Homo sapiens: one gene and its partner. The protein of the gene in region 1 interacts with the protein of each later gene in a pairwise test. Each region holds a gene or a part of one and is shown on either strand. Other genes may lie near its edges.

What was found. The genes of interacting proteins can lie anywhere in the genome.
Region 2: the proteins of AHI1 (region 1) and NPHP1 interact in binary tests that used the Homo sapiens proteins (3 or more experiments, as listed by UniProt).

The regions. Positions count from the first base shown.
Region 1 is NC_000006.12:135,494,727-135,502,574, forward strand, and holds the start of AHI1 (jouberin), read right to left. Parts: upstream 3,015-7,848; 5' UTR 2,857-3,014; intron 2,524-2,856; 5' UTR 2,462-2,523; intron 1,173-2,461; 5' UTR 1,088-1,172; intron 984-1,087; exon of another isoform or gene 813-983; intron 1-812. UniProt on the Homo sapiens protein: Involved in vesicle trafficking and required for ciliogenesis, formation of primary non-motile cilium, and recruitment of RAB8A to the basal body of primary cilium.
Region 2 is NC_000002.12:110,166,995-110,174,019, reverse strand, and holds part of NPHP1 (nephrocystin-1), read left to right. Parts: intron 1-4,021; coding exon 4,022-4,214; intron 4,215-5,466; coding exon 5,467-5,568; intron 5,569-7,025. UniProt on the Homo sapiens protein: Together with BCAR1 it may play a role in the control of epithelial cell polarity. Involved in the organization of apical junctions in kidney cells together with NPHP4 and RPGRIP1L/NPHP8. Does not seem to be strictly required for ciliogenesis.

The DNA of each region.
Region 1 (7,848 bases):
TTATAAATATGATAGTTCCAAGAAAATAAAAAGCCAATGAGAATCCTGTGAGCCTACAATATAAAGTAAAATCAGGGAGATAGGTGAAAAACTGGGAGATAGAAGCATTACAGAAGCAAACCCAAGTTTTAAAGGAGATGTTGCCTATATACTGTGTGGCATCAAAAGGGGCTGGAGGTTTTGAAGAAAGTCCACTGAATCTGCAAGTAGGAAGTCACGTGTGTCAAAGCTGTTTATAGAGGGGCAGAAACTTAGCAGGCTGGGGCTAAGGAATGAATGGAAGGTGACACCTGTAGAAGGGACATGTAGACAATTCTTTACAGAATTCTTCCAACTGTCTTCCCATCACCCCCAAAGGCAGTGACATGAGACAGTAACTCTGAGGGACAAAAACACTGTGGAAGGATTATGCTTTTTGTTTTAAGATTGTTTCCACGCCGCTATCACCTTTCCCTTAAAAAAAAAATCATCATCTACACAGCAACTAGTGTAATTTTCTAAAATTCAAATGTGATGGTGTCGTTTCTTCGCTTAAAATTCTTCACTAGCTCCCAATCGCACATTGAAAAAAATATCAAGTCCTTACCAGTGAGGTCCAAGGCCATTTATGAAATGTCCCCTTCACACATCCACTGTGTTCCAGACATGTGAAACTACCTGCAGGCCTTCACGTGTGCCAAGTTCTCTCTTGCTTTTGTATCATTACACACATATCCCCTCCCCTGAAAAATGTGCTTCCTCCTTTGTCTCTCTAACAAACTCCTCACTATCCTTTAAAGGCAAATGATATCTTCTCTAGAGAGCATTCTCACCTTGAAGGGCATTTAAGAACTTCTCTTCTGTGCTTCCAGGGTGCCTTAATCTTTGTAGCTCCCTCTACCTCAACCTTGAATTTTCACCCTGGTAAAATGTTCTGTAACTCCCACCAAACTGCTAGCTTTGGAGGACCAAGCCAATGCTCTCTTATAGTTATGTATCTGCCACTATGAAAGAAAAGAGAGGAGAAGAAGAGAGAAGCGAAGTGAAGAGAAGCAAAAGCAAAGCGAGTAAAAAAGACTCAGGCTTGAGCTCTAGTGTCACCACTTACTGATGTGTGGCCTTGGGCAAGCTACTTAATTTCTAATCCTTGGTTTTTCCTTGTCTGGGAATTTAAAATGGCACCTATTTTAGTACTGTAAGGAGAAGAGAAAATACCAAAAAGCAAAGTAATCAGTACATTGCAATAAAATTACTTTATGTCCATTATTATTGTATTAAAAATAAGTAAATAATTACAAATAAAATATATAAATCATATACTTATTTACTATTAACAGCTTAATACACAACTAAACTAATAAATACTAATATTATGTAATGATAACACAGCAAATACAGTACAGAAATCATCTCTAATTTTTTTTTTTTGGAGACAGAGTCTCGCTCTGTTGCCCAGGTTGGAGTGCAGTGGCACAATCTCAGCTCACTGCTGCCTCCGCCTCCTGGGTTCAAGCAATTCACCTGCCTCAGCCTCCCTGGTAGCTGGGACTACAGGTGTGGGCCATCACACCCAGCTAATTTTTGTATTTTTAGTAGAGATGGGGTTTCACCAACATTGGCCAGGCTGATACTGAACTCCTGACCTCAAGTGATCCACCCACTTTAGCCTCCCAAAGTGCTAGGATTACAGGCGTGACCCACTGCGCTCAGCCATCTCTAAATCTTAATATGTACTACAGCAAACATGATAGAATTAACGGCTAATATTTGATTAGTAACCTCTGCAAAAAATCAGATAGGACTTTAAAAGACACCTCTGATTCTTATATATTCCATTATTTTACAACTTCTCCCTCACAAACCCTTTCACAGGAGCGTCTAAGAGATATTACACAGGAAAATTAAATGGATTACATTTCATCTCATTTTATTTTACAGACAACCTGATTATCAGCCAATATGTGGCTCAATATCATTGGGAGAAAAAACTGAGAGGCTTGATAATTCGCTCCTTAACCAAATGTTATCGCAAGGGAAAAAAAGACAAACAAAAATCCTGTATACAAAATTCAATGAATAAATCAACAAGATTCTTCATAAGTAAACAAGATTCTAACTTCATAAATATTATTCCTCATAAACAAGATTCTAGGTATGGTTTAAAAACACTTTTGGTATTTGAATTTCTTTCAAGCATTCTTTAAAAAATTTCCCAGAGTACTCATAAGAAGCAATCTTCCTCCTAACGCCCAAGCAGTAACAGCAACTGTTAATGCAACAGGTGAAAAAATCGTTGGCATCTCTTTCTCAAAAGAAAGGGGAAAGCTTTATTTTCACAATAGATGTTTTTACAGGAATGCTAAACGCAGCACAACCTTTGATAAGGATTCTTAAATGGTCTACATTTTTGTTCTATTTTTATGCATCTCGAAACAACCCTATTAATATAATTTGGCTCTTATAAATATAACAAATTGATCACCTTTTCTCAGACATAATTAAGAAGGCTTTGACAGGTTGAAGATTCAGCCCCAGGTTGACACTCTAAAAGGAAATAAACACACTCAGTACACATCTGATTTAAAAGCATTTAAATAAGAATCGGGAGTAGGAAAGGCAAAGATTGAATTCTCTATCAGAGCACCATGCTCAACTCTCCGGGGACACGGAGACCAGTGAAAGAAGCGCAAAAGTACGGTGAGGACTCTCAGAAATCGCATTCCCCCGGGACACCCGGCCCACGCTCGTCGGTCACTACGCTATCAGCCTCCGCGCTCTCGGACTCCAGCAGCCCCGACACGCCGCCCAGGAGAGGGCCGGGCAGGCCGAGCACCCCGGCCCGCGCTCCCGCCACCAGCGCACCCATGATGTACTCACGGAGAGGGGTACGCAGAACCGCCCGTCCCGCCGGAGCCGACACCCGGAGCAGTGCAAATCAACTCCCCCAGCCTAGCGGCGCGTGCGCGAAGTGAGGCGGCCACGCAGCCACCTAACCCGCCAGCGACCCGTGTCCTGAAAGCAAGCCGCGGCTCTGTGCCGCAGTGCGGACAGCGCGCCGCCTGCTGACGTCAGCGCCTGCCTACGCCGCCGTTCCCATGGCGACCGATGCGTCCCGCGCTCTAGGCGAAGACCGCGGCCCCGTCCCCGCGCCTCCACCGCCTTCTTCCAGGAGGAGGGGCCGTGCGGCGCCTGCCCGGGGGCCCTCAGGCCGCAGGCGGGCGCGAGCTTCAGGGAACTTAGGGGGCTCCCGCCTCCCCGGCCACGCGAGCGGGAACAGTCTCCTCCACTCGGAGCGGTAAGGGACCCGGAAATGCGCGGGTGCCCCTACAGAGTCTTGAGTTTTCCCCGCCCTCACCTCCGAAAATGCTCTTTTCGCCTTAGAATTGTAGCTAGCGCAGGGAAAAACTGACTGGGCAAAGGAAAACTGGGGAGGCTGTCATGGAAGCCGCCCAGAATAAGAAAATGAATGAATGAGGCAAAGAAACAGATTTGTCACTCCCCACGCGATCGCGCCCACAAAAGAAAACATGGTTTTAAGGCGTGGAAAATGAAGTTGTACTACAGACAAAATTTTAAGAAAAAATTATCCACTGTTCCTTTAGAGCTATCTCCCTGTGTGTGAAAAACAAAACAAAAGTTAAAACGCCATCCTTTTCTACACCTAATGCTCCCTCCCACTTTTCTGATTTCTGCCACAGGCGCCATCTTCAGCTCTGAGTCACCAGGGCTGGAAAAATACTAGATGCGCTACTCGTGGACTCGTGAATACACTCGTGAATACAGGCCATTTCCTGTACCTACAGCCACCCGCTGTAAGCTGTTGCTTCATTTGTACAGTAAGAGTTTATGGAGGCCAGCTTTTCCATTCTTACTGACATTGCCACACCTTACAAACTATATGTCTTGTGCTTCCCTAAATCCTGTGAGGAAGCAACGAGAAAGATTACTAATCCAATGCGTACCGAACTGAGCTGTTCAACTTTCCGTTCTAAACATACTCTCCTAGATTTCTATCTTGCTGTAAGCCACCACAATCCTCCCAGTGTTTTAGTAAGAACAGTAGAGTATCCTAAATGCATCTTATGCCAAAGCATATCCATTCTCTCTTTTTAACTTCCTCAGATGGGCCCTTTACCAGTTCTCTGACTCCAGTTTGACTCTTAAATTCTCCACACTGCTATCAGAATGACCTGACTAAAAATGTAAATCGGATAATGGCACTCTCCTGCTGAAAATTTTTGAAAGGCAATCTGTAAGAGAAAATGATTACTTTGCCTAGGATACAAGATTCTCCATCTCCCTGACTAGTTTCATCTCTCGTTAGCTTCTTGTTCCAATTTTATGCAATATTGAATCATGTGTACCATGCAGTTTTATGCAACATTGAATTATGTGTACCATGAAAAACAATCCATAGCCTTTCACGCCCCGTCCTTACTCATATTGTCCTCTCTTCCTGAAAATTCCTCCTTTTACACTCCTGCATCACAGCCAAATGTTGTCCATCCTTTGAATCTTAAGCAGGTTGACTGACTCCTTCAAACACTCCTACTCCCTATTAGACTTCGGATACTCATTCTATATATTAGACTTTGGATGCTCATTCTATAGTTTCATAGTTTACTTTGTATTTTCTCTATCCCCAGCATCTACCACAGTGTCTATGAAATAGTTGGCATTTCATGAACATTTGTTGAATGAATAATGGATAACATATATTGAGCTCCTTCTAGGAGGTATGCATTGTAGGTGTTTTATGTACTTTTCATCTGTCCTCACAACTGCATTTAAGTACCTGCTTTTCCAAAGGGAAGTTATAACTCTGACTGCTCATTCTTAGTAGGGTGTTAGTTTCAGAATACAATCCCCAGACTAGCGGATGTGTAACCCTGTTATCATCTCTTGCTTCTCCATTTACAGTAGCATGCAGAGGTGCAGTGGGGTGGGGGAGGTCAGGGAATATTTCATAGCAGAAGTGACATTTAAGTAAAGACCAAAATAATGTGTAGAGTTGTCCAGGTTAGGAAGGGTTTCCAGGTAGAAGAAGGTGGCGTATAGTGTTCACTACAAGAAAGTTTGGTATAATACAAGAACTGGAAGAAAAAAAAAAAAAGTTCAAGTTGGCTAACTAAAAGGTAGAGAATGAGACTAGGGGCTTTTGGAGGAGACAAAACAAGAGAGTTAAACAAGCTATGAAGAGACCCAGACAGTATTGGTCAGTGGAATACCACTATAGAATTTTATGGAGTGAAATTTTCAAATTTTAATATCATAAAGATAACTCTGGCTGCAGGGTGGAGAACAGACAGGAAGGAAGCAAATCTAGATCTGGGAATACCATTTAAGATGCCGTTGCTGTAAGCCATGTAAGAGACAAAGGTGGCATGGTCAAGGCTAAGAAAAATCAGAATGGAGAGAAATGGACCAATTTGAGAAATTTTTAGGAGGTAAAAATGTCAGGACTTAGTGATTGATTGGATGGAAGAGTGAATGATAAGAAATAATAAAAAACGATGACCAGCTGTTTTGCCTTCCCCTTGGCAAGTAAAGAGGTGGCAAGCATGAAAGGGGAGTGAGGAAATAAATATGTTGGGTCTAATGGGAGCCAGGTTTCTCACTGACAGAGAAGGACGTTACAAATTGAGAGAGGAAGAATTCCACAGTGACCTTTGTGGTGATGTTGAATTGGAATTGAATATGTCAGTGTCAACTCATAGTTTTCAATATATACATAAACATATGTAAAAATAAATATAGAGGAAAGTATGTCTGTATGTGTGTGCGTATCTATCTATTATGCTCTTCCTAGCTCTATCTGCTGAAAGGGTTTCAGAGTAATGGTATACTAGAAGCAATGAGCACATGTGCCTAGATCTTGGTTTCTGAACAGTATTATTCACTAAAAGTAACTGGGTCCCTTGGAGAAATGGTTGATTTTAGAACAGGAGCCTGGAAAATTCTTGTTGCACCAGAAGTTAAGGAAGTTAATACAGAATGAAGAAACATATCAAAAGGTCACAGAAGCCAGCTTGAAGGAGCCACCACTGGCCACATCTGGGTCAATCTGAGCACCAATATAATGTTAATGGATTATAGTCCGCTAAATAAAATAGGAATATTTGAGCCCATACTAAAATGAATAAATGATTTTTTTGAAAAATCAGGATAAAGAAAAGCTCTGCCTTACATAAAAATGCCAACTAAATGTAATGAATGTAGACAGTGTTATATGTAGAAACATCATTATTTGGCAGTCATGATAGTAACAGTTGATTCAGACTAGAATCATCAGTGTATGCTAAAACTAGAGGGTGAGAGTATTAAGAGACATATAATATTTATATAGTCTCAAAGTATCTCTCCAGCAAATACTTATTAATTACACAGAGAAAAATTAGAAAACTTGACAGTGTAGAAATCTGGCACTGGTGAGCGAAGTTACCATCAGCAGTCATGAGACAAATCAGCATCGTGTATGTCCTGGTTAGAGGCACTTAGAATACACTTCTGTGACATTCCTGCCAAAAATGTGTAATCCGAATCAATCGTGAGGAAAAAATCAGACAACCCAAATGTCCCAAATTGAGGGACATTCTACAAAATAATAGACCTGTACTCTTCAAAGATCAAGGTCATGAAAGACAAAGGAACAACTAAAGAACGTTTTTAGATTGAAGGAGAATTAAGATACATGACAATTAAGTGGAATACATGATTCTGAATTGAATCCTTTTGCTATAAGGATATTATTGGGACAACTAACAATTTGAATGGGGTCTCTGGATTAGATGGTAGTATTTTAACAATATTAATTTCCTGATTTTGATGACTATAGTGACATAGATATTTTTGGTTTTAGAAAATACATATTGAAGTATTAAAGGTGATGAGGCTTCATATCTGCAACCTATTCAAATGGTTCAGGAAAAAAGTATACATAAATACTGTAAATAAATATAAACATAAATAATATACATAAAGAAAATGATAAAGCAAATGTTAACAGGGAATTTGGGCGAAAGCAGAAGTTCTTTATACTATTCTTGCAATTTTTCTGTAAGTTTATAATTATTTTAAAACTATAAAAGAAGTTTGAAAGGTGCCGAGGTTTCTGGCTCAGGTAACTGGGTGGAGAATGGCTAATCAGTTAACGACAAAAAATCAGGAAGAGCAAGCATGGAGGAAAAGATGTTTAGTTGCAATGGGATGTATGGAGTGGGATGTTCAGCAGGCAGTTGAGTATATACTAAACATATTAATGAGCCCCATTCAAACTGAATAAAGCAGATATGTTGCTTTAGCTCTCATTAGTCGAGAGTGCAAGACCAAGGGCACTCCGCTATCCTAGGAGAGGCAAACAATTAAGAGTGGTAGTATGGTAATAATTCTAAAAATTGGCTGAGTATCCATGAAAAAAATTGTGTGTATATATATATATATACACACACATATATGTATAAACATATATACACACATATATGTATAAATATATATCCACATATATGTATATATATACACACATATATGTATATATACACACATATATGTATAAATATATATACACATATATGTGTATGTGTGTGTGTGTGTGTATATATATATGTATGTATATAAATTGAACCGTTTAGGAATAAAATAGATTTAGGGTATTCGACACATTTAATACATAATGAATAGTGAATTTCTTGAATAATATAATGCCTAAATGTGACTGATATGCAAAATATTTAAATCCCTTACAGGATGTGCATTTACCAATCAGAACAGATGTTGGCTTTACTGCTTGTATTAGTTTTCTGTATTAGTTTGCTTGTATTAGTTTGCTGGGGCAGCCATAACAAAGTACCACAGAAATTTATATTCTCACAA
Region 2 (7,025 bases), on another chromosome or scaffold:
AATATCAGATATTTAAGGCTAAAAGTAATTTACTATTTAAGAAAGGACATTTCATAATGATAAAAGAAAGGGTCGATTCAGTAGGAAAAAAAATCTTCCTAAATGAGTATACATTTAATAATATGGGTTCAAATGTATAAAGCAAAAGTTGCCAGAACTAAAACAGAGCTAGATAATTCACAATCCTTAACCACCGTGATCTAATTACATGTATAGTCAAGCCTTTCTTAGTGATAGGGATATGTTCTGAGAAATGAGTCATTAAGTGATTTCATCATTGTACAAACATCATAGAATGTACTTGCACAAACCTAGAAGGTGTAGGTTACCATACACTTGGGTTATATAGTTATAGTATAGCATGTTGCTCCTAGGCTACAAACCTGTACAGCATGTTACTGTGCTGAATACTGTACACAATTGTAACACAATGGTGTATTTGTGTATCTAAACATATCCAAAAATAGGAAATGTACAGTAAAAATATGGTATTATATGTATGGGGCCATCATTGTATATGTGGCCCATTGTTGACTGAAACATTGTTGTGCAGCACATGACTATATATGTGTAGAACACAGCACCTAAGTATGTATTATGTAAATACATATTCTTTTCAGTGCATCTGTAACATTAACCAAAATGAACCATATTGGACCATAAAGTAATTGTCACCAAATTTCAAGAGTTTGAAATTATGTAGAATATATATATATTTTCTTTGATGACTTGGAATGACATTAAAACCCAATGACAGAAAAATAATTAGAAATCACTGCATGTGGCCAGGTGCGGTGGCTCACGCCTGTGCTGAGGCGGGCGAATCACGAGGTCAAGAGATAGAGACCATCTGGCCAACATGGTGAAACCCCATCTCTACTAAAAATACAAAAATGAGCTGGGCATGGTGGTGCATGCCTGTAGTCCCAGCTACTCGGGAGTCGGAGGCAGGAGAATCGCTTGAACCCGGGAGGTGGAGATTGCAGTGAGCCAAGATCATACCACTGCACTCCAGCCTGGTGACAGAATGAGACACCGTCTCAAAAAAAAAAAAAAAGAAAAAGAAAAAGAAAAGAAATTACTACATGTTTGCAAATTGTCACACACTTCTATATAAACTGTGAGTCAAAGAAAATATAACAGTGGCAATTAGAAAATATTTGGAATGATAATAAAATGACTGGGTTGCAACCAGCATAGTGCTTAAAGGGAAAATTTCTATCTTTTGTTTGTTTGTTTTGGAGACAGGGTCTCCGTTACCCAGACTGGGTATAGTGGTGCAATCTTGGCTCACTGCAACGTCCACCTCCCAGGCTCTAGTGATCCTCTCCACCTCCGCCTCCCTGAGTAGCTGAGACTACAGGCGTGTGCCACTACGCTTGGCAAATTTTTTAAATTTTTTGTAGAGGCAGGGTCTCACTATATTGCTCAGGCTGGTCTTGAACTCATGGGCTTATGCAATCCTCCCACCTCAGCCTCCCAAAGTTCTGGGATTACAGGTGTGAGCCGCCACACCTGGCCAGAAATTTATATCTTTAAATGTATAGTTTGAAAAAAAAGTTGAAAATCAATTACTAAAACATCCAACTTTAGGGGCCAGAAAAAGGACAACAAACCCAAGGAGAGCAGGAAAGAAATAATAAAAATAAAAGCAGAAAACAGTGAACAATAAACAGACATACAGTAGGCAATATCAACAAAGCCAAACTGGTTTTTGGAAAATTAATTAAATGGATAAGCTGCTAGCATTACTGATCAAGAAAAGAGAGAGAGAAAAAAAATCAATACAGATTCCACAAGCATTAAAAAGATACTATGAAAAGACTATGAACAACTTGTGTGAATAAGTTTGAAATTTAGATAAAATTAGTTTCTTTAAAAAGAAAATGTACTAAAATTGACACAAGATGAACAGAAAATCTTAAAAGTTCTACTAAAATATTTACTAAAGAAGTTGAATCTGTAATTAAAAGCCTTTCCACAGATTAAACTCTCAGGTGGCTTTACTGGTGAATTTATTGTAAACATTTAAGAAAGAAATAGTGCCAATATTAAAAAATCATTCCAGAGAACAAAGAAGAAACACTTTCAAATCATTTTATAAGCTTTCAATAACACTGATATCAAAACATGACAAGAACACTAGAAGAAAATTGCAAGGCCCTCATGAACACATGCACAAACTCAGTATAAAATATTAGCAAGTAAAATCTAGAGGCATTTCAAAAGGGTAATACATCATGACCAAGTGGAATTTGTTCCAGAGTGTGAGGTTGGCTTAACATTAAAAAATCAATCATTGAAATTCACTACATTAATGAAGGGGAAAAACCGTTATCAAGTTCACATTATTTTCGGCAACATTTTAGAATAATTGACCCATATAAAATATGTGCAAAATATCTCCTAAAGAAGGAAAGAGACGCGTTGAAAATCAATATGACATTTTATGGATTTTTTAGTCTTGTGGTATAAAAATGGTTGTTACATCCCTGTTTATGTTTTAGATCATTGTGGTATAAGAGTGTCCTACCATTATTTTAAACAAAGTTCAGCTAATATTCCTTTTTATTCCAGAGAAAATCTTGTAGTTGACTAGTTTTATAGTTAATGATGTTCATTTGCATTAGTCTAAGTATTGTTTTCCCATTTTAAAGATAAGCTTCTCTCATGTAAGCTTTAGGAGGGCAAAGATCTTGGTTTTGTTCATTGTTATAGCCCAAGCACATAGTGTCTGTCACACAGTAGGTGCTCCCCAAAATTTAAACTTTGCTGAATGTTGAATGAGTAAATAAAATTCAGAAAGATTTAGTGACGTGCCCAAGCTAACATTATTTTGGCATTTCTCTCTTCCTCACCCTCAGATTCACCTCCTTTCTCTTCATCCCTATGCTGTTTTCTTAGTTCATAGTGTTGTCACTTCTCACTTTCAACAGCCACCCTCACCTTTAGCCTTTCTTCTAATCTGTTCCCCACATTATACCTTTGTCTCCTTTCTAAAGTGGGAATCATATCATGTCCTTCCCCTACTCATTTTTAGGGGCGACTTTAAAGGTAAAGCTCACCTGGGCTACATTCCGCGTACCTCTTTTCAGCCTCAACTCTCACTCATTTTCCTTAAGCCTTGCCCTACCATTCATGAGCTACTTGATGTTTCCTAATCTTAAATCTCCTTTCTCCTCTCCCTGCCCTTCCTTTCTACTCCCATTTTACCTGATTAATTCCATATCATCTCTCAAGACCTAATTATAGCCTTTTATGATTCCCATTCGTGCAACCTGGGTTAGGTGTCCCTCTTGTGTGATTGATTTCTTAGTATCCTGTGTATACCTCTACTCTAGTACCTATTGCACTATTTTATAATTCTCCATTTTCTAGATTGTCTCACTGCAAGCTCCTTGAGGATGGGGAATCATGTCTGGTTTACCTTTGTGTCCACTGTGTATCTCTCTGACACGGAACTTGACCTACAGCATCAGTGTCATCATCATAACTGACTTTTATGGAAAGCTTGCTATGGGCAAGCACTGTTCTAAACACTTTGCAAGTAGTAACTCATCTTAATCCTCATGACAATCTTAGAAGGCAGGTTCTATTATTATCTCCACTTTACCAATGAGAAATGGAGAGCTTAAAAGAAGCCTACTCAAGGTCACCCAGCAAAGAGGGAATAGAGCCAGAATTTAAATTTAGCAGAGCCTATGCTCTAAGTACTTCATAATAATGCTTCAACAGCATTTTCTGAATGGATGAATCCAAGACTTGAATTCGGAGTCTCCTGGCCTCAAGTCCAGTGATGCTCTGCCATCTCACATACATGACTCAGCTCCCTCTCCGCCTCAGTCTCTCCAGGCACACGGTCTTAGCTAGATGGTAGAAACTGTTCTTTGTATTTTCCCTTATTTCTTTTATTTGCCAGCTCCAAATATGGGATATTCATGTATATGTAGAAGTTACACTCATAGCTGGTCTGTTCTTGTATATTATTTCAAGTAGTCCTACTCAGAAACACTTTTTGTAGAGTTGGGGCACCTACTGAAGAAGAGGAAGAAAGTGAAAGTGAAGATAGTGAAGACAGTGGTGGGGAGGAAGAAGATGCAGAGGAGGAAGAGGAAGAGAAAGAGGAAAATGAATCTCACAAATGGTCAACCGGTGAAGAATACATCGCTGTTGGAGATTTTACTGCTCAGCAAGTTGGAGATCTTACATTTAAGGTAGGTAGAATAAGACTGAAACCTAACCTAAGGGTCGATGTCCATACCTAACAGAATAAGAAAACTCTGCCTGTACACCTGTATTACAGATTCTTAAAATGCAGTTTTATAACAATCTATTTAAATAAGTAATAATTACAATTTACAAGCAGTAGTAATATGAGATTGTGTTACTAAAGTTACCTCTTCTAAAGATTTTTGAAAGTAGCTTTAATGTTGAGAATTCCTAATTTAGGGGTAAAATTTTATAATTTGTTATTGAATGTCATGTATAAATTCATTCAAGTGAGTTAGGCAATGTCCATAGGTGGAGGTAGAAGGGAGCACTTCCTGCCATTTTGTAGCAGTCTTTCCTGTTAGCTTAGATATGAGAGGGGCTTACATCCATGCTTGGTTGGCCTGGGCATAAATAAGTGGCAGGTGGGACAGAACAATAAAGTTGTGATTTTTAAAGTTGTGATTTTGAGCCTGTGTTTTCTGCTAGAGAAATGAGCCAAAGAAATTTAAGTGAATATATGAATTTTAGTTCTTATATTAAACTTCAAAGTTTAGTAACTGATTAATAATAAAATACATAAGAATATTATGCAAATAATTATATGGTTTGATTTATAGATTTTTTTTTCAAATTCTCCTGGAAAATGGTATCAATATTAGACAATAATGTATATTTTAATTAAGTGTTTGCTTTTGTAGTGTCCTTAGTGGTGGAAATGCTTTTGTCTTCAAAGATGAATTTTATTTTTATAAATGAGTGAGTGTTATTCAAAACATATCTGGTGAATTAAGTGGGTAATTATATTCAGTAAATACTATTTTTGCTCAAAAATAGGGTTTAACTTTAATGGAATTGATATTCTTTGGGAATTTATATGCTGCTTCTGAAAGACACTTTTCCAGAGATATTAAAACATTCAAAAATATTTTACGCAGTAATTGAATTTTTGGAATAAGTATGGGGCCTTAAAAATGATTGTGAAAAATGGTTCCCATTTGCATAAATGGCTCAAGTGTATGTTAGGTAACCAAAAGGAATGATTCATTAAACTATGTCACATTTATGGTTTTAGGTGAGTTAGGCAGAATACATAGGGGTCGGGTGATAGGGAAGCTTTTGATAAACCTTAGGATAAATATTGGATTAAAAAAAGATTTTGCCTTTTTTTCAGCACATATTTTGAATCATTGGTATTGACATATACTCATGATTATTGAATTTTATTTAAAATGGTTTACTTTGTTTTGCTTTAAGAAAGGGGAAATTCTCCTTGTAATTGAAAAAAAACCTGATGGTTGGTGGATAGCTAAGGATGCCAAAGGAAATGAAGGTCTTGTTCCCAGAACCTACCTAGAGGTTAGTCTTGGTTTATGCCTTCCTTTTCTAAGACTTTTTTTTTTTTCGCTTTTAATAAAACATTTAGCTGTGTTCTTTTGTCAGTTGACTAGTGAATGACTTGAGATATAGAATTTGCTTTAATTTTGGAGGGACAGGACCTGGGAAAAACATTGTGTATTAATGGTCCTGGGGACCTGTGAAGTGCTCTTACGCATGTGAGCCCTGGAACGTGATCTCACAATGAGGGGATGCTTTGTGGATTAATGCTGATCATAACAAATAATAGGTGTCTATTGTTTATTGTAAAACATAACTGCAGTTAACTTTGTGTTAACTTCCACAAATATGTGATCCCCTTACTAAAATGTGAACATACTATACATGTGTGTTTGTAGCTTGTATTTTCTTATTTCATAAAATAACATGGTCATTTTCTGTGCCAAGATATATAGATTTCTGTCTGGATCAGCACTGTCCAGTAGAACTATGATGCAAACCACACATGTAATTTAAATTTTTCAGTAGCCACACTGAGATATCTTTTTGCTGATGCCACTTCTGACACCAAGTATGTGGTTTTTCTCTGACACCAAATATGTGTTATTACATCAGTTCTTCTACACCAACCGGTGTCAGCAATTCAATTCGATTCTGATGCTAATGCCTGGAGCTAGCACAGACCCCCACAGGTTAAAGGCTCAGTCCCACAAGATTGCTGCTCACTTCCGTTGCCAGTCACAAGTCCCAAGAGCCACCCATACTTCTGACTGACTGGCTATACATTCACGAGTTCCCATACCATCACCTCAGGGGTTCAGTAATTTACTAGAATGATTCACAGAACTCAGGAAAACACTTTCCTTGCATTTACCAGTTTATTATAAAGGATGCAACTCAGGAACAGCCATAGAGTGAGGTATTGGTTGGGGGTGGCTGGCATGCACTCTCTGGGCCTTCCACCTTCCCAGCACTTCGCTGTGTTCACCATCCTGGAAGTTCCTGGAACCCCATCATTTAGGGGTTTTTCTGAAGGTTTCATTAGCCATGTTTAACTAAATCATTAGCAATTGGTGATTAACTCAGTCTCCAGCTCCTCTCCCCTCTTTGAAGGTTGGAGGGTGGGGCTGAAAGTTCTAACCTCTAATACCTGGGTTGGTTTTTCTGGTAACCTGTCCCCTTCCTGAAGCTGTTTAGGTGCCCACCTAGAATTACCTCATTAACATAAACTCAGGAGTGACTGAAGGGGACTCTTGATGAGTAAGAAAACATACTCCTATCATTCAGGAAATTCCAAGGGTTTCAGGAGCTCTGTGCCAGGAATCAGTGACAAAGAACAAATACATGTTTTTCATTACACACATTTTTAAAAAGTAAAAAGAAACAGGTAGAATTATTTTTAATAATATATTTTATATTATCCAGTATATCAAAAATACTATTTTGACATATCAATATTTAAAAATATTGAGTTGTTT